Linked DNA regions of Homo sapiens. The protein of the gene in region 1 binds, or shares a complex with, the protein of each later gene. Each region holds a gene or a part of one and is shown on either strand. Other genes may lie near its edges. A codon is read from its position in the direction of its gene.

Region 1 (12,185 bases):
GGATGTGGCTTGAGTGCAGGAAGCAGTAGGTGCTCAGTTAACAAAAAAACTACAGCCGGGCGCGGTGGCTCATGCTTGTAAGCCCAGCACTTTGGGAGGGCGAGGCAGGAGGATCACTTGAGGCCAGGCATTCAAGACCAGCCTGGGCAATGTGGCAAAGCCCCATGTCTACAAAAATAATAAAAAAAAATTGCCAGGTGCGGTGGCTCACGCCTATAATCCCAGCATTTTGGGAGGCTGAGGTGGGCCAATCAAAAGGTCAGGAGATCAAGACCATCCTGGCTAACATGGTTAAACCCCGTCTCTACTAACAATACCAAAAATTAGCCAGGCGTGGTGGCGGGCGCCTGTAGTCCCAGCTACCTGGGAGGCTGAGGCAGGAGAATCGCTTGAACCTGGGAGGCGGAGGTTGCAGTGAGCTGAGATTGTGCCACTGCGCTCCAGCCTGGGCGACAGAGCGAGACTTGTCTCAAAAAATATATATATATGTGTGTATATATATATTTTTATTATTTTATAAAAATATTTTTATATATTTTATATTTATTATTTTATAAAATAATAAATATTATAATTATAAATGATATTTATAATTATATAAATATTATTATAATTATAAAATAATTATAAATATTATATATTTTATTTAAATAAAATATATATTTATTATTTATAATATATGTATGTGTGTGTGTATATATATATATTAGCCAGACGTGGTGGACCCACGTGGTGGCACCTGTGGTTCCAGCTACCCCCCATTCCAAGCTGAGAGGGTGGCTTGAGCCCAGGAGATGGAGGCTGTAGTGAGCTGCGATCGCGCCACTGCACTGGGTGAGAGCTATGAGAAAACTTAGTGACAAGGAAACTCTCCCTCTAACCCTTCCCAGGGAGGAATCTTTTTTTTTTTTTTTGAGACCCAGGCTGGAGTGCAGTGGTGTGATCTCAGCTCACTGCAATCTCCGCCTCCGGGGTTCAAGCGATTCTCCTTCCTCAGCCTCCTGAGTAGTTGGCATTACAGGCACCCACAACCACACTCGGCTAATTTTTTTTTTTTGTATTTTAGTAGAGACGGGGTTTCACTATGTTGCTCAGGCTGGTCTCGAACACCTGACCTCGTGATCCACCCGCCTCAGCCTCCCAAAGTGCTGGGATGACAGGCCTGAGCCACGGGGCCCGGCGCCCAGGAAATAACCAGAACTGCAAGCCGCGGACAGGGGTGGAAAGGTGGGGACTTTTGCCCCTTTTCCCAAAGACAGAGGCGGCCCCTGCCCTGGGCCACAGGACTGGTGAATGGAGAGACACAAAGAATCTCAGTAAGTTTGTTGATTGACAGCAGATCGGGGCCTCCCTTCTCAGTAAGTTTGTTGATTGACAACAGATCGGGGCCTCCCTTCTCAGTAAGTTTGTTGATTGACAGCAGATCGGGGCCTCCCTTCTCAGTAAGTTTGTTGATTGACAACAGATCGGGGCCTCCCTTCTCAGTAAGTTTGTTGATTGACAGCAGATCGGGGCCTCCCTTCTCAGTAAGTTTGTTGATTGACAACAGATCGGGGCCTCCCTTCTCAGTAAGTTTGTTGATTGACAGCAGATCGGGGCCTCCCTTCTCAGTAAGTTTGTTGATTGACAACAGATCGGGGCCTCCCTTCTCAGTAAGTTTGTTGATTGACAACAGATCGGGGCCTCCCTTCTCAGTAAGTTTGTTGATTGACAGCAGATCGGGGCCTCCCTGCAGGATCTCATTTAACCCCTCAACGGCCCATGGCGGGTATTTTCCCGTTTCACAGAGGTGCAGACCGAGGCGCGGAGAGGGGACCACCCAGCCCACGATGCCACCCCAGGTCCCCACGAGCGGCCCCGACGCGCCCCTCCGTCGCAGCCTCCACCCTCCCCAGGCCTCTGGCCTCCGCCCCTGCGCCCCCCGCCCCGCCCGGCGGCACCTGGAGAATCACGATGTCGTTGAGCAAGTTTACGGGGTCGTAGCCGTTTTCGAAGATGCGCTGCACGGCGAACACCTGCCGGGTGGGCTCCCGCCGCGAGAGGTTATGGGCTCCCAGGACCACCCGCACCGCGCGGACGTTTCTGCCGGGGAGGGAGAGGCGGGGCTCAGGGGCGGCCCCGGGGGTCGGGGCTCAGCCGCGCCTTGTCGTCCCCATCCGGCGACGGGCCTGAGGGCGAAGGTGCTCGAGGGGCCCCGCGGGCCCTGGACGGACCCCCCCCCGCCAGCAGCCCCGGCCCCGGCCTCCCCCCACCCACCTCACAGACCGGGACGCGGGGTCCGAGCCGGGCGCGCACACTCCCGGCTACTCACACATTCGCCACGCAGTGCGCGGCCGACATGACGAAGTTGGGCGCAATCAGGGTGGCGCCGCAGAAGTGGCCTCCGCGCAGCTGCAGGGACACCATGAAGGGCCACGCGTGGGGCCGCGCTCGCCGGCCCCCCACAATCTCCGAGGCCAGCGCGGTGCCTGGGGACACACCGGGTGCGGGTGCTGAGTGCCTGCCAAGGAGCCTGTCCCCTCCCGGCCACGGGGCCTCTGGATCCCCCACCAGGAACCCACGGGATCCCCCACCGGGAACCCACGGGATCCCCCACCGGGAACCCACGGGATCGGGGCCGTTCGCACCCCTGTTGTTCAGATGAGGAAACTGAGGCACGGAGAGGCAAAGGGACCTCCCCACGGTGCCCCTCCAAGGCACAGACAGACCTGGACTTGAACCCAGAGGGCGACCTGCGACCCCCCCCCCCTCCCCGGTTTTCAAACCCCAACTCTGGGCTCCTGGTGGTGGCTTCACCGCTCAGAACCTCAGTCTCTTCTGGTCTCCTTGTCCCAGCTGGCACCTCCCCTGTGAGGATGAGGGACCCACACTGGTGGGGCCCTCTATGGAGAGGTGGGAACAGAACCCGGGACAGAGGGAGCAGCGGGAGGTTGGACTCAAAAACTCACCCCCCAGCAGCAAGGCCGGCAGGACACAGGCGAGGAAAAGACACGCGAGTCGGCGGCCGAGGGTCATGGTGGGGCTGGGGCTCCGGGGTCTCTGCCCCTCCGTGCCCGCCCGGCTCCTCTTATAGCCCTGTGCTGGGAGGCCGTTGCATTGCCCCACGGCCGGCCAGCGCCCTCCACTTCCTCTCCCCTGGCACAGGGCGTTGATGAAAAGGGGGAGAAGGGGGACAAGACGCTGGATTGGCTCGGGTGGGGCCTCCAGACAAAATTCAGGATGCACAATCGCATTCAAATGTCAGATAATCAATGTGGGTTTTTTAATTTATTTTTTTGGAGACAGAGTCTTGCTCTATCGCCCAGGCTGGAGTGCGGTGGCGTGATCCCGGCTCACGGCAACCTCCGCCTCCCAGGTTCAAGTGATTCTCCTGCCTCAGCCTCCTGAATAGCTGAGATTACAGGCACCTGCCACCACTCCCGGCTAATTTTTGTATTTGTAGTAGAGACAGTGTTTCGCCCTGTCGGCCAGGCTGGTCTTGAACATCTGACCTCGGGTGATCCGCCTGCCTCAGCCTCCCAGAGTGCTGGGATCACAGGCGTGAGCCACTGCGCCTGGCTAATTTTTTGTATTTTTAGTAGAGACGGGGTTTCACCGTGTTGGCCGGGCTGGTCTCGACGTTTTTTTTTTAATCTAAGTCTCTTCCAAATGAGGCCCAGGATATACTTACCCGAAATTCAGATTTAACCGAGCGTTGCTGTGTTTTTGCCAAACCTGCCAAACCTAGACCTGAGGGACTTGATGGGGGTGGCCTCGCCTGCCTCAGTTTACCCAGGGCCCCGTGATACCGGCCACATGCAGCTGTGTCGCCTGCCTCTGTTTATCCAGGGCCCCGTGATACCGGCCACATGCAGCTGTGTCACCTGCCTCAGTTTACCCAGGGCCCTGTGATACGGCCACATGCAGCTGTGTCGCCTGCCTCAGTTTACCCAGGGCCCTGTGATACCGGCCACATGCAGCTGTGTCGCCTGCCTCAGTTTACCCAGGGCCCTGTGATACCGGCCACATGCAGCTGTGTCGCCTGCCTCAGTTTACCCAGGGCCCTGTGATACCGGCCACATGCAGCTGTGTCGGGCACTCACTGCGCAATAGGCACTTCTCTGGTCCTTCCCAGGGTTCCTGTTTGGGAACTGAGGCACGTCAAGGGCCTCCCCCAGGAGCTGCGAGTGTAACCCAGGCCTCTGGGACCCGCAGCTGGACGGAGATCTGGGGCCGGCTCACTCCAGCCGCTCCCTGAACCTCAGGGCTCATTCTTGGGGGCCAGGCCTTCCATCCTCTCCTCGTCTGTTGCCTCCAACGGGGAACTCACTTTCACCCAGGCTCACGGTCAGTCCCTGGACACCAGCTGGGGCTCTGACAATCTCTCCCGCCCTTCTGCCTTGGTGAGCTTCCCTGAAGCCCTCCCCGCCTGAGGCAGGGGCTGGGCGGGCATCTGGCAGGGCTGCTGGAGAGAGAATTCCTGTCCAGGCCGGGAGGCTGGAGTGAGGACCAAGCCTGAGGGCTTCCGCCTGGAGGAACTGGCAGGGGAGCTGGAGTCCCAGCTGCGGGAAAGGGATTCCCAGGACCCAGCCCCGGGCTCCGGGCCCCGTTCCTCTTCCCATCTCCCCCACGATGTTCCAGCTGCAACGGCCGGGCCAAGGCTGTCGCAAGAACCAACGTCCTCCTGGCTCCAGGACAAGGGGAGGGGAAGGGAACCAACGGGCCTGTCTCCAGGAATAGGCGGGGCGAGGGCACCCGGGGACACGCAGAGCCTGGGCCAGGCTGGAGTCCTGACGTGACCACAGGCAAGTGGACCCCCATGGCTCTCGGGTTAGGGAGACAATGGCCCTGCCCTCCCAGAGCCTGGCACACAGCAGGCGCTCAGTCCATGTCTGCCCTGTCCTCAGCTTAATCAGACACACACTACCCTGCCTTCTCCCCTCCCCTTTTGGCAGGGTTCCCACCTTGCTGCCTTAACATCACCACAGTGCACTTAGTAAGCGCCTACTGTCTACACAGCCCTGTTTCAAGTCGGGGGTGGGGGGATTTCAGGGGTGGGGGACGCCGTATCTTTGGAAGGGGCTTGGCCTCCAGCACGGAGATCAGACTTGGCGTCAGCTGCATTTATTGAGCACCAGCTGTATACTACATTCTCACGTGCAGTCATTATTAAGTGTGCCGACGCTGGGTTCATATCCTGGTTCTGGTGTGGCCATTTGGCCACTGTGTAACTTCAGGCCCCTGAAATAAACTCTCCGTGACTCAGTTTCCTCCTCTGTAAAATTATAATCGTAGGATCCATCACATAAACCTGTCAAGAGGATGAAATAAATTCACGTTCATAAAGTTCTTAGCTAAGAAAGTGTTGTCTGGCCGGGCGCGGTGGCTCAGGCCTGTAATCCCAACACTTTGGGAGGCTGAGGCGGGTGTATCACCTGAGGTTGGGAATTCCAGCCTGACCAACATGGACAAACCCCGTCTCTACCAAAAATACAAAATTAGCCTGGCGTGGTGGTACCTGCCTGTAATCCCGGCTACTCGGGAGACTGAGGCAGGAGAATTGCTTGAACCTAGGAGGCGGAGGTTGCAGTGAGCCGAGATCATGCCACTGCACTCCAGCCTGGGCGACAGAGCGAGACTCCGTCTCAAAAAAAAAAAAAAAAAAAAAAAAAAAAAGAAAGTGTTGCTTTGAGAGCTGGTTCACCATTAACTGTGGCAGGGAAGGTAGGGGTGTTATGGTCACAGCGGGTGTAGACTCCGAGGGGGACGTGGGGTCTTCTGGGAGGCCAGGAGATTGCTAAGATTACAGTGACCTGGAGGTGTTCATATGTAAAGAGTCACTGAGGACCCACCTGGGCAACACAGCCAGACCCCGTCTCTACAAAAACTAAGAAAATAGCTGGGTGTGGTGGCACCTGTAGTCCCAGCTACTCGGGAGGCTGAGGTGGGAGGATCACTTGAGCCCAGGAGGTTGAGGCTGCGGTAAGCCAAGATTGCACCACTGCACTACAGACTGGGCGACAGAGTGAGACCCTGTCTCAAAAATAAATAAGTAGGCCAGCTGTAAATAAGTAAGTAGGCTCACGCCTGTAAACCCAGCACTTTGGGAAGCTGAGGCGGGTGGACCACCTGAGGTCAGGAGTTCGAGACCAGCCTGGACAACGTGGTGAAACCCTGTCTGTACTAAAAATATAAAAATTAACTGGGCGTGGTGGTCTGTGCCTGTAGTCCCAGCTACTCCGGAGGCTGAGGCAGGAGAATCGCTTCAACCCGGGTGGCGGAGCTTGCAGTGAGCCGAGATCACACCACTGCACTCCAGCCTGGGTGACAGAGCGAGACTCTGTCTCAAAAAAATATTAAAAAGAAAAAAAAAACACCAGCAATGAGCTTCATTTCTTCTCTACACGTGTCCTGGAGCAGGTCGTCCCCTCTCTGTGGCTAATGCCTCCTTCTAGTGGCCACTTGCCCGTCTTTGAGCTGGACTGTGAGTCCCACCTCTTCCCCGCCTCGGACCTCCCCTCTGGCCACCCCCCCACCCAGTTCATTGCTCATGCTTCTACCAGGGAACTCCTGCCCTGCCTACCCCTCCTACGAGAAATAGCGCTCCAACCCCATTACCCCTCCCCTGCACCCACATCCCTCCCCTGCCTGCCCTCCTCCCCGTCCCCTGGCCTCTAGCCCTCAGGTCTCTGCCTGGACTGTGCCCCCTGCCTGGCAGCCCTTCGGATGTTTCTGTTCACACCTTGATATGCAGCTCTGGCACTGCCACCTCCTCCAGGAAGCCCCCCAGGCTGCTTCCCCATCCCCATCCCCTTCCTCAAGGAGTCCCTGAGCCAGCAGGGACAGTTCTAGGAAACGTCTGGGGCGAGTCCATTTTCCAGATGAGGAAACTGAGGCACGGAGATGAATAACAACCTGCCCAGGGCCACCCTGATGGGGCCGGGTTAGAACCCACAGCCACGAGCATCCAGGAGAGAGACCCCCTGCAACCTGGGCCCCCATCCCCCGCTCCGACTCCCCCCATCCTGAGTTTGGGGCTCGGGGACTTGAACCCAGGGGACCTCTCCCTGGTTCCCTCCCTATATGGGAAGGACAGACAGGAGCCAGGGGGAGTTTCAACGTTTATTGAGGTCACGGTGGGCAGTTCCCCCTCCCCTCCCTATATGGGAAGGACAGACAGGAGCCAGGGGGAGTTTCAACGTTTATTGAGGTCACGGTGGGGTGAGGTGCAGGGCCGGCCTGTCTCCCGGAGCCCCGTGGGAGGGAGTGTGGGGGGACGGGTGGGGCCGTCCCGGACGCCACAGTGTTCGGGGAAGAGCTGCTTCTGTCCAAAGATCCGCCTCGAGGGTTTGGAGCCAGGCTCGGGGTCCCGGCCAGCGCTGTGGGAGGGGCGGTTCAGGGGCGGCCCTTGGCCTCCACACGGCGCAGCGTGGAACGGATCCAGTCCACGTAGAGGGCTACCCGCGTGAAGAAGTCAGGGAAAAGGCGGGTGGCACATCCCCAGATCACGAAGGAGTCTATTCCTTGGATGATGCCATCACAGATCAGGGGGCCACCTGAGTCTCCCTGGAGGACAGGGACGGCCAGTCACCCATCAGGGGCCACCTGAGTCTCCCTGGAGGATGGGGACGGCCAGTCACCCATCAGGGGCCACCTGAGTCTCCCGGGAGGATGGGGACAGCCAGTCACCCGGGCTGGCCCCAGGCAGCCAGGAAGGGGGCTGGGGTAGCCACAGCTGTTTCAGAATAAAATGCTTCCAATATGGAACTTTCTTTCTTTCTTTCTCTCTCTCTCTCTCTCTCTCTCTCTTTCTTTTTCTTTCTTTCTTTCTTTCTTTCTCTCTTTTTCTTTCTTTCTTCTTTCTTTCTCTCTCTATCTCTTTCTTTCTTTCTCCTTTTGTTTTGTTTTGTTTTGTTTTTGTTTTGTTTGCGACAGAGTCTCGCTCTGTCACCCAGGCTGGAGTGCAGTGCCGTGATCTCGGCTCACTGCAACCTCTGCCTCCCGGGTTCAAGTGATTCTCCTGCCTCGGCCTCCCGAGTAGCTGGCTGTCTTTCTCTCGAGACAGGGTCTCGCTCTGTTCTCCAGGCTGGAGTGCAGTGGCACAATCATAGCTCACTGCAACCTCGAACTCCCCAGGCTCAAGTGATCCTCCTGCCTTAGCCTCCTGAGTAGCTGGGCCTACAGGCTCACATCACCATGCCCAGCTAATATTTAAATTATTTGTAGAGATGCCACCCTGCTATGTTGCCCAGGCTGGTCTTGAACTCCTGGACTCAAAAGATCCTTCCGCTTTGGCCTCCCAAAGTGCTGAGATTACAGGCGTGAGCCACCACTGCTGGCCTGGAATTTTCTTTAAAATGTGTGAGCACCAGCCAGGCATCACTTGATGCCAGGAGTTCAAGACCAGCCTGGTCAACATGGAGAAACCTCATCTCTACTAAAAATACCAAAAAAATTAGCCAGGCACGGTGGCAGGTACCTGTGCACCTAGTTACTCAGGAGGCTGAGGCAGGAGAATACCTTGAACCTGGGAGGTGGAGGTTGCAGTGAGCTGAGATCTCACCACTGCACTCCAGCCTGGACAACAGAGCGACACTCCGTCTCAAAAACAAACAAAAAGTGTGAGCAGGGAGGGGCTGAGGTCTTTCGTAGGAACTGGGCATTTATGGGCCTCCCGCTGGATACCTGGAGTCCTGGATTCTGGAAGGGGCCGCCGGTGAGGGCGGATGGGTCTCCCACACCTTCCTGTGGTCCTAGAGGGGAGTGGGGGGCAGGGAACCCCCAGACCCACCCAAGCAGCCAGGTGCAATGTGAGCGCCCCCACCCCGCTGAGCCTGCCCGTTGGGTGTTGGGTGTGCCCACCTTCCAGGTGGGGAGACTGAGGCACAGCATGAAGCCACACAGCTAAGAGGTGGCGTGGAACCCTGGCCGCCGCCCTCCTCCCCTCATGGCAGCCCGGTGCCCGGGGTGGGGGCACGGTTACTTACGAAGCAGATGCCGGCCTTGCGGCGAGGGACGAAAGTGCAAATGTTATGTGGCCGGCAGAAGAAGGTGACCACGGTGACATTGAGCTCCTGCAGGACCTGGGCTGGGGGGTCGTGGGCACCCACGCGGCCCCAGCCCATGGCCAGGCACTGGGTGCCGTGGGGCACTGGCTGGTCCTGCTGTGGCAGCTGGACTGTGGCGACGGAGGCACTGAGGTTGGCTGGGCTGCTCAGCTGGGGCAGAAGGCAGGCGGCGGTGAGACGCTGCTTCCAGGTCACGGTGGCCGCCCGGGCCGCCCTCCCACCACACCCACCACACCCACCACCTCAAAACGCCGCGGATGCCGCTCCCTCCGCCTGGGCCCCACGACCCCCTTTGTCCCATTTGTCACTATTGTATTCATTCATTTTCTTTCCTTCTTTCTTTCTTTTGAGATGGAGTCTTGCTCTGCCACCCAGGCTGGAATGCAGTGGCGTGATCTCGGCTCACTGGAACCTCCCGGAGCCATCCCATTGGGTGAGGTGGCCAGCCTGGTCTCAAACTCCCAACCTCAAGTGATCTGCCTTCCTCAGCCTCCGAAAGTGCTGGGATTACAAGTGTGAGCCATAGTGCCCGGCCATTCATTCATGTTTTCTTTCTTTCTTTCTTTTCTTTTTTTTTTTTTTGAGATGGAGTTTCGCTCTTGTTGCCCAGGCTAGAGTGCAGTGGCACAATCTCGGCTCACTGCAACCTCTGCCTCCTGGGTTCAAGCAATTCTGCTGCCTCAGCCTCCCAAGTAGCTGGGACTACAGACACCTGCCGTCACGCCCAGCTAATTTTTGTATTTTTAGTAGACACGGGGTTTGCCATATCGATCAGGCTGGTCTCAAACTCCTGACCTCAGGCGATCCGCCCGCCTCGGCCTCCCAAAGTGCTGGGATTACAGCCACCGCCCCTGGCCCATTCATTCATCTTCAAAGCACTTTTTTTTTGAGATGGGGTCTTGCTCTGTCGCCGAGGCTGGAGTGTGGTGGCATGATCACAGCTCACTGCAGCCTCAACCTCCTGGGCTCAAGTGATCCTCCCATCTCAGCTCATGAGTGGCTTGGCGTGTGCTACCATGCCCGGTTGATTTTTAAATTTTTCTTTTGTAGGCTGGACGCGGTGGCTCTCTCCTATAATCCCAGCACTTTGGGAGGCTGAGGAGAGCAGATCACTTGAGGTCAGGAGTTCGAGACCAGCCTGGCCAACGTGGCAAAACACCGTCTCTACTAAAAATACAAAAATTAGCCAAGCGTGTTGGTGCATGCCTGTAATCCCAGCTACTCAGGAGGCTGAGGCAGGAGAATTACTTGAACCTGGAAGGCAGAGGTGGCAGTGAGCCGAGATTGCACCACTGCACTCCAGCCTGGATGACTGAGTGAGACTCTGTCTAAAAAAAAAAAAAAAAAAAATGTCTTTTATAGAGATGGGGTCTCACTAGGTTGGTCAGGCTGCTCCCAAACTCCTGGCCTCAAGTGATCCTCCCATCCCAGCCTCCCAAAGTACTGGGAGTACAGGCGTGAGCCACAGTGCCCAGCCCCAAGCACTTACTGAGCACCACCTGTATGCCCAGTCCCGTTCTAAGCCACATGAGTCCAATAACGAACAACACAGACAAAAATCCTCTGCCCTGGGGAGCTGATCTTTCTGGGTGGGAGGAGGCTAGGAGGGCCCCATGAATGAGAGGAGCACGCGGTTCAGTGGAGAACAGTGAATCGGGGAGGGCTGTGGCTGTCCTCGCCACTTCCAGTGAGGTCAGGGGAGGCGCCGGAGGAGGCGAGGGCACCTGGCTTTCTGGGGGAACAGCACACCGGGCGGAGGCGCAGGCAGGGGAGAGGGGCAGGCAGGGGAGAGGCGCGCAGGGGAGAGGCGCGGGCGGGGGAGAGGCGCGGGCGGGGGAGAGGAGCGGCCGGGGGAGAGGCGCGGGCAGGGGAGAGGCGCGCAGGGGAGAGGCGCGGGCAGGGGAGAGGGGCGGGCAAGGGAGAGGCATGCAGGGGAGAGGCGCGGGCAGGGGAGAGGGGCGGGCAAGGGAGAGGCGCGGGCGGGGGAGAGGCGCGGGCGGGGGAGAGGCGCGGGCGGGGGAGAGGCGCGCAGGGGAGAGGCGCGGGCGGGGGAGAGGCGCGGGCGGGGGAGAGGCGGGGAGGAGGAGTGGCCTGGTGTCCAAGGAGCGGTCTCCCCCGGCCAGTGCCACTGGACCCAGGCTGCAGCGGCCTCGGTCGTGGCCCGGTATACAGTGGGTGCTCAATGAATGCTGGCTGCAGGAATGGGGGTCCCGGAGCCCTCTGGCCGTGCCCCTCCGAGCCCTCGCGGCCCTGCCCGCCCACCTGGATGAGGAGAACGTCGTTCAGTTTGTTCTCCGCGTCGTAGTTGTTCAGAAACACCTGAGCCACCGAGAAGTGCTGCTGGGTGGGCTCCTGCGTCCGCACGTTGTGGGCTCCGAGCACCACGTTCACCAGGCGCTGGGGTCTGCGGGGGTGGGGTGGTCACTCCTCGGCGCCCTGGACACTCGCCGCCGCCCACAGCCGGCCCTTCCCGAGGCCGCGGTGCAGCCCCAGACCCCTCCCTCGGCGACCCTGCCCCGGGCCTCCCCCCAGAACTGCCCACGCGCGCGGGGCCTGGGGTCTGCAGACGGGGCTTAGCTGGGTCCTCCCCGGGCAGAGGGACAGTGGCCGGGCCAGGGCTGGAGGAAGAGGGCGGGGCGGGCGGACAGGGGTGTGGAGGCGGCCGCTCACATGTCCCGCAGGCAGTGCGCGGCCGTCAGCACGAAGCTGGGGTGGATCAAGGTGCCTCCGCAGAAGTGGCTGCCCGGGTTCCCCCGCATCTGCAGGGAGGCCATGTAGGGCCGGGAGTGTGGCTGCGCCTCGTGCCCGCCCACGATCTCCGCAGCTCGGGCAGCACCTGCAGGGGGGGAGTCCAGGCGTCAGGGAGCCCCCAGGCTGCAGGGAAAGGGGGGATGGCAGAGCAGCCCCTGGGCCTCTCCGAGCCTCCGTCTCCCGATCTGCAACCCGGTCAGTGCCTGCTGGCTGGTGGGAAGGACTCAGCGCCCAGGCCGGGGGGGTTATAATTACGACGATTTCCAAAGGCGCCCTGGTGGCAGCTTTCAGTCCTGAGAGTCAGGAAGGCTTTTAAGACGCAGACCAGGTGGCTGGGTGCAGTGGCTCACGCCTGTAATCCCAACACTTTGGGAGGCCGAGGCAGGA
Region 2 (11,643 bases), on another chromosome or scaffold:
AAGCAGTATGTGGCTGAATTCTGAAGACTTGGGTTTGAATCTTACTGTACCTCTGACTTGCTGTGTCATCTTGGGCAAGTGGGCTTACTCTCTGAGGTTCCATTTCCTTTTCTTTAAAATGGGATATAAAAGTGCTTGGTCCACTGTGAAGTTCGGGGTCATGCATGGTGTCTATTCCTAGGCTTTTTATTCAGGAAAGTTGGCTCTCTGGGTCCTGAGAGTCCTCTATAAGGCAAAAACCCAGCTAGAATCTAAGACTTGGGGCCTCTAAAGAGCATCTGTTCCAATGCACTGATCTTACAAATAGGGAAACTGAGGCCCAGAGAAAGGAAGGTTCTACATCAAATTGGACAGAGCTGGGATTCCAGCCCAGTGTCCTGAGTCCAGTATCATCGTCATGCCTCTCTAGCTGACCACAGGGTCCCAGAGGCCAGAAGTGATGCTATCAAGTGTGAGTCTTTCATGGTCTTTCTGGCACTCTGCTCTGTTTGGGCCACAGAGGTGTCCTCATAGTGGTGCTCTCCACTGACCCCAGGCTTAGACACCAAACTCTCCCATAGTAATGATCAACCAGGCATCGTCTGCCATGTCCATCTAAGACCCTACCATCTCCTGATCTGCAACAGGAACGTTTCTCTGAGACTCACTTTTTCTCATCTGTAAACTGACTTGACATTAGTATCTACCAAGTTTTGTGTGACGCTTAAATGTAACAAAACATGCTAAACCAAAGGAGATGGATTCTAGTGATTTGGGGACATCTTTTCCCAAGCTGCTTATAGCTCTGTTCCACAGTTTAATAATCCAGTTTTTCTATTCCCGGTTTTCTTCCATGGGTAGTCATGATGGCAGTTTCTTAATGCCGAGCACTGTTTTTCTTTTTGTTTTACCAGGTCCCTAAAGCATTTCCTCATGACATACCACAGACTTTGTTTCTTTAACCTTAGGTTAACTGGATCCCTTCCTCTAGGGAGACAGACATGCAGTTTTTGAAGGAATAAAGTGCAGAGCCCTGATCTGTACACCAACCATCTCTTGCATGGTAATAAGTATGAAGACACCTGAGATCCACCGTTGTTGGTTAATTTCTCCTGCCAATTCTTTGATGGTGGATGTTTTTCACCCTTGCCCAGATTCTGCTTTACTGCCCTTCACCCATTCACTTGTGGGCCTAAAAGGACAGTTCATATTTCCAGATTTTATTAGGACTATGATGAGCAGTAGGGGAGGAAGTACAAACATTGCAGAATTCAAACTTTCTTGGGTGGGAAAATGATAAGGAGTGGCTAAGCCATCTGTTTCTCTGGAAGGTCTAGGGAGATCCAGTTGCCATGTCCACCACCTGTGGATGACACTTCCAGAGGTGATTTAAATGACCCCACCTCCCTTGCAGTCATCTCTTTCTCATCTACTCTTCCTGTCTCAGCTCGGGGTTTTTTTTTCCCCAATACTCTCCCCACCACACCTACTACATCTCCATACTCCCTGGCTCTGTGTCTCCATTCCCATTTGGTCATTATTGACGTTTTATGTATTTTGTTTAAGACAATATTTTAAGCTAAGTTATAAAGGCAACTATGAAAGTCAGAAAATTGGCTGAGGCTCTTGGGGAGAGCTGATGGCCTCAGAGGAAGCAGGATGAAGCTGTTTCTTAGAGTCACAGTTACCGTCTTGGGACAGGTAGAGGAACTGAGGCCCAGGGAAAGGTAGTTGCTGCCTTATTCACACAGGAATGAGCTGTGAAAACCTGGTTGTCTGCCAGATTCTGAAAGAGTTTTTTGTTCTGTGTTGTTTTTTGGTTTTGAGACTTGGAAACATAGTGAATTTTAGGTAAGAACACAGTGACTTTTAGTTAAGGGTGAAGCTGGCATCTGCTATCAGAATGGGGCGACCCGAAACACATTCTTCCTTAGACCTGAGCAACGGGGCTCCTTCCCTGCACCTCACACTTCAGGTCGCTCTGTGCCTTGGGGCGTCTTCCTCAAAATTGTCTATGTTCCCCTGGAGTGCCTGAAGCCAGCCAGGATCAATGGTGCCATGGGGCAGAGAATCCCAGCTTGGACTGAGAACTGCATGGGTTCTAGTCCAAGGGGGTGCTTCTCACTCTGTACTCCTTCCCCCATTGCTAGAATCTAGGGCAGTCATCCTACCACCTTGGATGGCTCCTGGCAGGAGCCTGTGGCTGCTCCTGTCTCTTCCTCAGGGCTTTCCAGGCCATCTCTGTGCAACTCCAAAGGGGCTTTTCAGTTGATGTCTTTTTTTTTTTCCTCTGATTGACCTATGCTCTCTCGGGTCAGTGTTGAGCCATAATGGATTAGGCAGAGACATTTCTTGTGCAAATGAGATGCTCCTCTCACTTCAACCCTGAGCCCCTCCAGGGCTGGCTACATAATTTACAAGACTCAATGCAAAGTGAAAATGTGGAGCTGCTTGTTCAAAAGCAGGAAAAAAAGTGTTAACGGTACTAAAATTAATTTTTTAACTTTCTTTGGCAGTTTCTCTCTAGATCTGCCATGGTGTTAAAAAAATTATTTACTGTTGCTCCTCCACAAGTATGTGGATACTCACAGGGAGAGTGCAGACTCCCAGAGGTGCGCAGGGTCCCTGTCCCGCTACTTGGTGTGTGCAGGACCCACCAGCTGCCAGGGTCCCCCTGTCACCAGCACCCTGGTAGTCAGGGACAAGCGGCCACACTAACAACATTTGAGACAGTAATTGGAAGCCAGTATTCAGAGAAGGCATAAAGGATGATGCAGCCTCACAAGTAATGATGTAACCAACTTTAATAAATGGCATTGGGAAGTGCAGAGGCAAGCAGGTTCCATCAGCCAGGGTTTTCCAGAGAAACAGAACCAATAGTTGATTATCTGGCTATCTATCTATCTATCTATCTATCTATCTATCTATATCTATCTATCTATCTATATCTATCTGTCAGTTAAGATCTGTCTATCTGTCTGTCTACCTACCTACCAATAGGCCCAATCAGGTCTATTTTGTCAAGAAATAAGACCATGTTTTGTCAAACATTTAATGGGACAGAGCCAGATGGGTCCAGACCCAAGGACTAAGCTATTTAGTTAAAGACTGACAGCTCCCTGTGCGCTTAATGTGTGCAGGGACACGCCGGTAATAAAAACAATGTGTAATGTACTGAGGGGACCAGACAGTTTGCTGAGTGCTTTCCAAATACTCCTCACAACAACTGTACGACTCCAGAGGCAGCAACACTCTCATTTTTCAGTGGAGGTAGCTGAAGTTCAAAGAGGTTCAGTGATTTGCTTCCAACCTGTAAGTCTGACTTTGAAGTTCAGGTTCTTAACAACCATGTGGTGTCGACTCCGTGGGCGTGCTCTTTTCTGTAGCCCTAGGCCTAGTGCAATACCTGACATGTGGTAAGAAATGTTAAACAACTTTTGTGTGAATGGTTTGTATAAATGAATGAAGGAATCTATAGGATTTAGGTAGAAGGCAATAAAGGGTGTGTGAAATAGATTTTTTTTTTTGAGACAGAGTGTCACTCTTGTAGCCCAGTGGCATGACCTCAGCTAACTGCAACTCTGCCTCCCAGGTTGAAGTGATTCTCCTGCTTCAGCCTCCTGAGTATTACAGGCACACACCACCATGCCCGGCTGATTTTTGTATTTTTAGTAGAGATGGGATTTCACCATGTTGGCCAGGCTGGTCTCAAACTCCTGACCTCAAGTGATCCACCCACCTCAGTCTCCCAAAGTTCTGGGATCACAGGAGTGAGCCACCACTCCCAGCCTTGAGATAGATTGAATGAGTCAGTCTCAGGTTAAGATTTGGTTAGGAGTGGAAGTGTCCTCCACCAGACAGGTTCTGGGGATCAGCATGTGAGTAACCTGTTTTAGAAAAGCTCAATCTTGTGTGTGTCGTTAATCCGCTATGCAGCTTTGGGCCTGGATCTTCTTCTAAGGGATTCAGTCTCTTTTATGCAAGCTGTGGGTTTGGTCTAGGGGTTAGCATTTTCTGTAAAGGACCAGACGATAAGTATTTTAGGCTGTGCAGTAAATATTTTAGGTCCCTGTTGCCATTGTAGTGGAAAGATAGCCTTAGACAATACATAAATTAATGGATGTGTGGCTATGTGCCAATAAAACTTTATGAAAACAGGTAACTAGGTGGATTTGGTCCAAGGACTGTAGTTTGCTGATCTAGAAAACCCTTGAAGTCCTCTTTTTAGTCTTAACATTCTATGATGTAAACATTTAGAACCAATTATGTCAAAGATAATAATGATTATATACTATTATCTTCTTATGACACCCATGGAAGACATTGCTAATTGGGCACAGGGCTCTTTTCTGATGAGAAAGGAGCTGGCTCTAATCAGTCAATCACAGATTGAGCAATCAGTCAATCACAGATTTAAAAAAAACTTAAGCTGTAGCATTTTCCTTTTAATTTTTTTTTTTTTTGAGACGGAGTCTCAGTTTGTTGCCTAGGCTAGAATGCAATGGTACAATCTCAGCTCACTGCAACCTCTACCTCCAGGGTTCAAGTGATTCTCCTGCCTCAGCCTCCTGAGTAGCTGGGATTACAGGTGTGTGCCACACTGCCTGGCTAATTTTTGTATTTTTAGTGGAGATAGGGTTTCACCATGTTGGCCAGGCTGCTCTTGAACTCCTGACCTCAAGTGATCCGCCCACCTTGGTTTCCCAAAGTGCTAGGATTACAGGCATAAGCCACCGTGCCCAGCCCCTTTTCATTCTTTAAGAAATAAATATTTAGAAAACTCCAGATAATTTCTTGAGTGTGGCACTGAGGAAAATAGGAACAAACAGAGAGAGAGAGAGAGAGAGAGAACAGGAACTCTGTGAGAGAAATCAAATTATCCCCTGGGTGGTGGAAGTGAGAACAAAAATCTTGACCTGAGAGTGTCATTACCCATTGGTGGAAATCATAGCCTCCATTTCTCTCTTACCTACCCTACTAAGTACTCCAACTAAGAGTGAATGCACCTGGCTCATAGTAGTTACCTTGTGCATATTAATTTTCTTCCTTTTCTTTTTCCACCAAAATTTGACTGATGATTGATTATGTCCAAGTCTTCTGATCCACCAAAATTCAAACCATGGAGTGACTTTTGTATAAAGGGATCTGCTGCCAGTTGCCTGTTTGGTTGTGGAATACTTAAATACTTCATGTGGGGCCATCGCTACTTGATAATGAGTGGGTCTTTCATGTCTGTGGAAAGTTCCACAAACCTTCACCTTAGGAATGAATGGGAGAATTCCAAGCATGAAGATAATGAGTCAAGAGCTTGGAGTTTGTAGCTAGATGAGCTTTGGTTGAATTTTATTTTATTTTATTTTTTTAAGACAGGGTATCGCTCTGTCCCCCAAGCTGGAATGCAGTGGCACAATCATGGCTCACTGCAGCCTCAAACTCCTGGGCTAAAGCGATCCTCCTGGCTCAGCCTCCCAAGTAGCTGGGACTACAGGCATACGTACGTCATCATGCCTGGCTAATTTTTTACATTTTTTTGTAGAGATGGGGTCTCAATATGTGGCCAGGGCTGGTCTCAAACTCCTACTCTCAAGGAATCCATACACCTCAGCCTCCTGGGCAGCTGAGACAGCAAGTGTGCGACCCTACACTCAGCTATGGGCTGAATTTTAGAGATAATGGTCGCTCTCTTTATAATTAGAAGCAACCTATGCAGACTGGGTAGCAAATAGAATGGGTTTAATTTTTTGCTGTCATGTGAGATCTGTAAGGGATTTTGGGGAATTTTAGGAAGCAATCCTCTAAGATCTCAAATTATCTCACAGCTAAATGTAGATTACAGTGACTGATGAGCTGCTTTCCCCCTTTATCTCAGATTCATTTCAATTCTCTTTAGTGGGAAGGGATACTATTCATTTGTTCTTTTCATTCAGAGTCCCTTCATGCCCTTAATTTCATAACCCTCTGAGAAGGGCTGACTTGTTAGTATCATTTCATTTCACAGCTGAGACAACTGAGCTCCAGAGAGATTTGTGGAGAGCGGAGCTCTTCTTCAGCTTTCATTTGTGAGTGCTTTTCCTGTGTCAGGCACAGAACAGGCACTGGGGATATAACGGTGTAAATATTTCAGGGAACTAAGTATCAGTTGGTTGAACGAGCTGAACTTTTGAGAAAGAAACTGCATTGAGTAATCAGCAGAGTTTCACAATGCCTGAGAGTCCAGTAATGTGAGAATCAGAATTAGCAATGTGAGAATAGAATGTATTGCACAAAGTCTCAGCAGGGAGTCTGTGTCTGGTTTTAGTTCCAGGTCCGGGTAGCACCTTTGCAATTGACCACTTCTTCCCTCTCTCCACCTATAAGGCTAATGGCCTGGGATCTTGTGATGTTTAGGGCTCAGATGGACACTGAGATGGCCTCTTTAATCAACCAACTTCCCAGGCCAATCTCTTCCCTTTCTTTTCTGATAGTTGCTGTGTTGGCCTCATAGCCTTACCTGGCATAGGAAAGATAAACAATCTCCTTGGTGTCAGGATTTCTGGTCTCTGGCTACGTTTCCTGCTTATGCAATAGTAGCTGGGAGAGGCCGAAAGAATTCTGGTGGGGCCACACCCACTGGTGAAAGAATAAATAGTGAGGTTTGGCATTGGCCATCAGAGTCACTCCTGCCTTCACCATGAAGTCCAGCGGCCTCTTCCCCTTCCTGGTGCTGCTTGCCCTGGGAACTCTGGCACCTTGGGCTGTGGAAGGCTCTGGAAAGTGTAAGTTGGAGTCACTCTGGTCTAATCTGGGCTGCAGGGTCAGAGGTGGGGTCTCCTTGTGGTGTGGGTGTGTCCCCTTCTGTAGGCTCTGATCCCTCAGCTTAGTTTCGGGAGACCTCCCTGAGGGTGGAATACATGTCTGGCTGAGCTCCAAGGTTTGTGTGACAGTTTGAGCTTCTGGAAATGCTTCCTCTATGCAGCCATGCTGTCAGCCCAGGTCCCACTCTCTCTCTCTCTCTCTCTCTCTCTCTCTCTCTCTCATACTCCGCCTTCTTCTTCACCTGTCTGCGACTCTCAAATCATTAGTTTCTGACTCTGCTTCCTTGTGTCTTTGCTTCTGCTATTTTGTCTCTGTGCTTCTGCCTTGGGCTTTAGCTCTCAACTTCTCTCACACTGGTTCTATTTATCTTTGTTTACCTCTCTCCATCTCCATCACTCCCAGCCTTCCTCTCTGCCTTTGTGTAGCCTTGTTTTGCTCTTGGGTGGGAGGTCTTGACTAGAAGCCTGCTGCCCTTTTCTTGGGTGTGAAACGTCCCCTGTCCATTTGTCTAATTTAATCAAGCCCATCAATACACCTGGAGATCAGGCAGGCATGACCCTTTGGGCTTTGTGGACAGCTACTGAGGTAAGGGTCTCTCCCCCTCAAAAGTGGTGCTTTGTTCAGGAGGCATGATGGGTCCTCAGTACCCAGCCTCCTCCTGACCTCTTGACTTTCTCTTCAAAAGCCTTCAAAGCTGGAGTCTGTCCTCCTAAGAAATCTGCCCAGTGCCTTAGATACAAGAAACCTGAGTGCCAGAGTGACTGGCAGTGTCCAGGGAAGAAGAGATGTTGTCCTGACACTTGTGGCATCAAATGCCTGGATCCTGTTGACACCCCAAACCCAAGTAAGCAGGTCGGGGAACTGGGTAGAGAGGAGTGAGCCTGGGGACACAGCATTAGAGGGATGGAACTGGGTGATGGGTCCTGCCAGGCCTCCTTGTCAATCCGTCAGTGAGTCACACTGCCCTAAGCAGGAAGGTAGCCAGCAGCTGGTGAAGCAGCGGGCATTTAGATAGCCAGGTAGTTGGAAGCCTCCCACCTAGTCAGCACTGGGTGGCTGGCCACCTGCATCAATGGGGGGCCTGAAGTTCTAGGAGAGCCAGGTGCTATGTTTGGGGGCCGCCTTAGGGAGAAGGTGGTGGTGATAGAGGTGGGGAGGGGATGATCCCCCCTGCTGAAGCTGGAGCAGGGGCTCACTCTAAAAAGTGGGGATGGGAGGGGTTGTATAAAGTACAAGGCCTCTGACCGGTAGCCTCACTCTCACCCAGCAAGGAGGAAGCCTGGGAAGTGCCCAGTGACTTATGGCCAATGTTTGATGCTTAACCCCCCCAATTTCTGTGAGATGGATGGCCAGTGCAAGCGTGACTTGAAGTGTTGCATGGGCATGTGTGGGAAATCCTGCGTTTCCCCTGTGAAAGGTAAGCAGGGGATGAGGGCACACTGAGCTCCCTCCAGCCCTCTCAGCCTCAACCCTCTGGAGGCCCAGGCATATGGGCAGGGGGACTCCTGAACCCTACTCCAAGCACAGCCTCTGTCTGACTCCCTTGTCCTTCAAGAGAACTGTTCTCCAGGTCTCAGGGCCAGGATTTCCATAGGATCGCCTGTGGCTTTGATTCTATTCTAGTGTCTCTGGGTGGGGGTCCTGGGCAAGTGTCTTTCTGAGTCTCAGTTTCTTTATCGGTAAAATGTACATAATGAGATTGAAAGTGCTCTGCAAAGCACTATGTGCACTAAGAATTTATTATTCAGGTTGTTTCCATCATGTTTTCTGAGGTGAAATCACAAAGGATCAGTGGAGTTTGAGGATTATCTAGTTCAATGCTTTGAGTTTAGAGTTTTACGGTGAAAATGAGACTTGTCTCCTGACACTAAGTCTCTCTCAACTATAGCGCTATCTTGCTATTTTCTCTATCTCAGAAGGATCCTTGGGCAGGAGGAAGGATGTGGATATGATTTGGCTGGTTTCTATGCTGAAGCTCTTATCTGATTTTCTCTCACAGCTTGATTCCTGCCATATGGAGGAGGCTCTGGAGTCCTGCTCTGTGTGGTCCAGGTCCTTTCCACCCTGAGACTTGGCTCCACCACTGATATCCTCCTTTGGGGAAAGGCTTGGCACACAGCAGGCTTTCAAGAAGTGCCAGTTGATCAATGAATAAATAAACGAGCCTATTTCTCTTTGCACATCCTGCTTCTGTGATTCGTTGGGGGTATGAGTGGGGTGGGAAGCTGTGAGGGAAGATCTAGATATGAGGCCTCCTTCCTATGAATACGTAGTGGGAGGAAGAGGCTTAGGGACTGGGGGAACTTGAATTTATATCATGAGTGTGAAAGTGCTGACTCTGTGATTTGGGACAAGTGATTTTATCTCCTAAATTTCAATGGGATTAGGGATGTACAATAACATGAAGAATCAGAAACCTCAATTTTACTGCCTCTGGCAGGATTGTCAACTGCAGGTGAAAAACTTTCCTGAGACGAGTTTATGCATAAGAGATCCTGCCAACAGTTAAGCTATTTTAATCCAGGGGGTTTTCATCTAAAGCCATACAGAACTGTTGGGGCAGATTCCTGTGTTCACCTCTGTATGTGTTACGATATATATATTGGTTTTCACACTTGATATGTTGTAGGTCTGTCTGTTGTCTAATCCAACCAACACTCTCTGGACACTCAGAAAAATTAAGATTATCTGCAACTCACAGCAAATGGAGTCCTCAAAAAGACTAACCATGTTACGTCAGTGCCCACTCTCGATTATTTTGAAAGACTTGGAATGCCCCAAACCTCACTGGACCATTCTGCTACATACTTTTCTCACCTCCAGCAAGGGTTATTCCAGACTGAGGAACCTAGGCTCGGGCAAATACGCTACTAGGAGTGTGCCCCAAGTAGCACCTTGCAGGGGGAGGAGACCTAGCGTTGAAATGAGATAAACTCCTGGGTTACATACAGAACACATGCTGAAAAAGTGACAGTACTATTTTTTTTCTACTCTTCTTCTCCAATTTTTGGATAATGATAAACTTTTATAATCTTCCTTAGGTCAGGTTTTCTGGAAAACAGTCCCAGAGGCAAATGTTTGTGAACAGGGGGTTTGCTGGGGAGTGTCCTGGGGAGTGACACCTGTGACAGGGAAAAGAAAGCAGGGCTGACAGGCAAAAAAAGCAAAAATAGACAAGTGGGACTACCTCAAACTAAAAAGCTTGCAAAGCTAAAGACACAGCCACCACTACCAGTCTCTGCATCTTGATGGTAGTGGTCCCCTGGGCCCAGCTGCTTTCTCTTTATCTCTTGGTCTTGTGTCTTTTACAATCTCTTGTCTCTGCACACAGGGAGAACACCCACTAAGCCCTGTAGGGCTGTATAGAAATGCTACTGATTTTTGTATGTTGATGCTGTATCCTGCATATTTACTGAATTCATTGATTGGTTCTAAGAGTTTATTTGCAGAGTCTAAAGGTTCTTCTGTAGATATAATTATGTTATCTGCAAAGAGGGATAATTAGACTTCTTTTCCAATTTGAAAGGCTTTTATTTCTTTCTCTTTCCTAATTGCTCTATGACTTCTAATATTAAGTTGAATAAGAGCAGTGAGAGTTGGCATGCTTTTCTTGTTCCAGTTCAGTATGATGTTAGCTGTGGGTTTGTCTATATGGCCTTTATTGGGTTGAGATACTTTTCTTCTATACCTACTTTATTGAGAGTCCTTATCATGAAGGGATATTGAATTTTACCAAATGATTTTTCTGCATCTATTGAGATAATCATATGGACTTTTTGTCCTTCATTCTGTTGATGTGATGTATCACATTTATTTAAAACATTCATAAATGATTTATATATGTTGAAACACATTCTTCATCCCTGGAATAAATCCTACTTGATTATAGTGTATTATCTTTTTAATGTCTTGTTGGGTTCAGTTTGCTAGTATTTTATTGAGGATTTTTGTATCTATGTTCATAAGGAATATTGGCCTGTAGTTTTTTGGTGTGTGTGTGCATGTGTGTGTCCACGTGCCCTTATTTAGTTTTGGTATCAGGGTAATGTTGGACTCATAGAATGAGTTTGGGAGAATTTTCTCCTTTCTCCTCCTTAATTTTTTGGAATAGTTTAAAGAAGAACTGATGTTAACTCTTCTTTAAAAGTTTGGTAGAACTCAGCAGTGAAGTCTTCCATTCCTGGGATTTTGTTGTTGTTGTTAGGAAGCTTTTTATTACTGATTCAGTCTCATTACTCATTATTGAACTGCTCATGGTTTCTAAATTTTTTTCTGGTTCAATCTTTATAGGTTATACATTTCTAAGAATTTATCAGTTTCCTCTAGGTTTTCCAATTTGTTAGCTTATAGTTGCTCATAATAGTATCTAAGAATCCTTTGTATTTCTGTGTCACCAGTGGTAATGTCTGCTTTTTCATTTCTGATTTTATTTGAGTCTTCTCTCTTTTTTTCCCTAGGTGGTCTAGTTTATGGTTTGCCAGTTTTGTGTATCTTTTCAGAAATCCAACTTTTTGTTTTGTTGATCTTTTGTAATTTTTAGTCTCTCTCTTGTGTATTTCTGCTCTGATCTTTATTATTTCTTTCTTTCTACTAATTTTGGGTTTGGCTTGTTTGTGCTTTTCCAGTTCCTTGAGATGCATCATTAGGTTGTTTATTTGAAACCTTTCTAGTTTTTTAATGTAGACATTTATTGCTATAAACTCGCCTCTTAATACTGCTTTTGCTGGGTCTCATAGGTTTTGGTATGTTGTGTTTATATTTTTGATTATTTCAAGGAATTTTGAAATTGTATTCTTAATTTCTTTCTTCACCCATTATCATTCAGGTGCATGTTGTTTAATTTCCATGTATTTGTATACTTTTAAATGT

Evidence for each region.
Region 2: the proteins of ELANE (region 1) and SLPI are in contact, whole or in part, in a crystal structure (PDB 2Z7F), measured with the Homo sapiens proteins. Residues at the interface, in NP_001963.1 of Homo sapiens: His53 (codon at 2,379), Phe54 (codon at 2,376), Cys55 (codon at 2,373), His70 (codon at 2,328), Cys71 (codon at 2,325), Asn74 (codon at 2,316), Val75 (codon at 2,313), Pro111 (codon at 1,976), Val112 (codon at 1,973), Asn113 (codon at 1,970), Leu114 (codon at 1,967), Leu158, Ile165, Leu180, Arg182, Val197, Cys198, Phe199, Gly200, Asp201, Ser202, Ala216, Ser217, Phe218, Val219, Arg220, Gly221; in NP_003055.1 of Homo sapiens: Tyr93 (codon at 8,074), Gly94 (codon at 8,077), Gln95 (codon at 8,080), Cys96 (codon at 8,083), Leu97 (codon at 8,086), Met98 (codon at 8,089), Leu99 (codon at 8,092), Pro102 (codon at 8,101), Phe104 (codon at 8,107), Met121 (codon at 8,158), Cys122 (codon at 8,161).

Annotation. Positions count from the first base shown.
Region 1 is NC_000019.10:843,159-855,343, reverse strand, and holds the start of ELANE (neutrophil elastase preproprotein), read right to left. Parts: upstream 3,042-12,185; 5' UTR 3,016-3,041; coding exon 2,949-3,015; intron 2,469-2,948; coding exon 2,312-2,468; intron 2,083-2,311; coding exon 1,941-2,082; intron 1-1,940. Other genes in the region: PRTN3 (myeloblastin precursor), read right to left, coding at 7,375-7,545, 8,967-9,197, 11,310-11,451, 11,718-11,883. UniProt on the Homo sapiens protein: Serine protease that modifies the functions of natural killer cells, monocytes and granulocytes. Inhibits C5a-dependent neutrophil enzyme release and chemotaxis. Promotes cleavage of GSDMB, thereby inhibiting pyroptosis. Promotes blood coagulation.
Region 2 is NC_000020.11:45,249,550-45,261,192, reverse strand, and holds SLPI (antileukoproteinase precursor), read left to right. Parts: upstream 1-6,628; 5' UTR 6,629-6,649; coding exon 6,650-6,734; intron 6,735-7,459; coding exon 7,460-7,618; intron 7,619-8,041; coding exon 8,042-8,191; intron 8,192-8,773; coding exon 8,774-8,778; 3' UTR 8,779-8,954; downstream 8,955-11,643.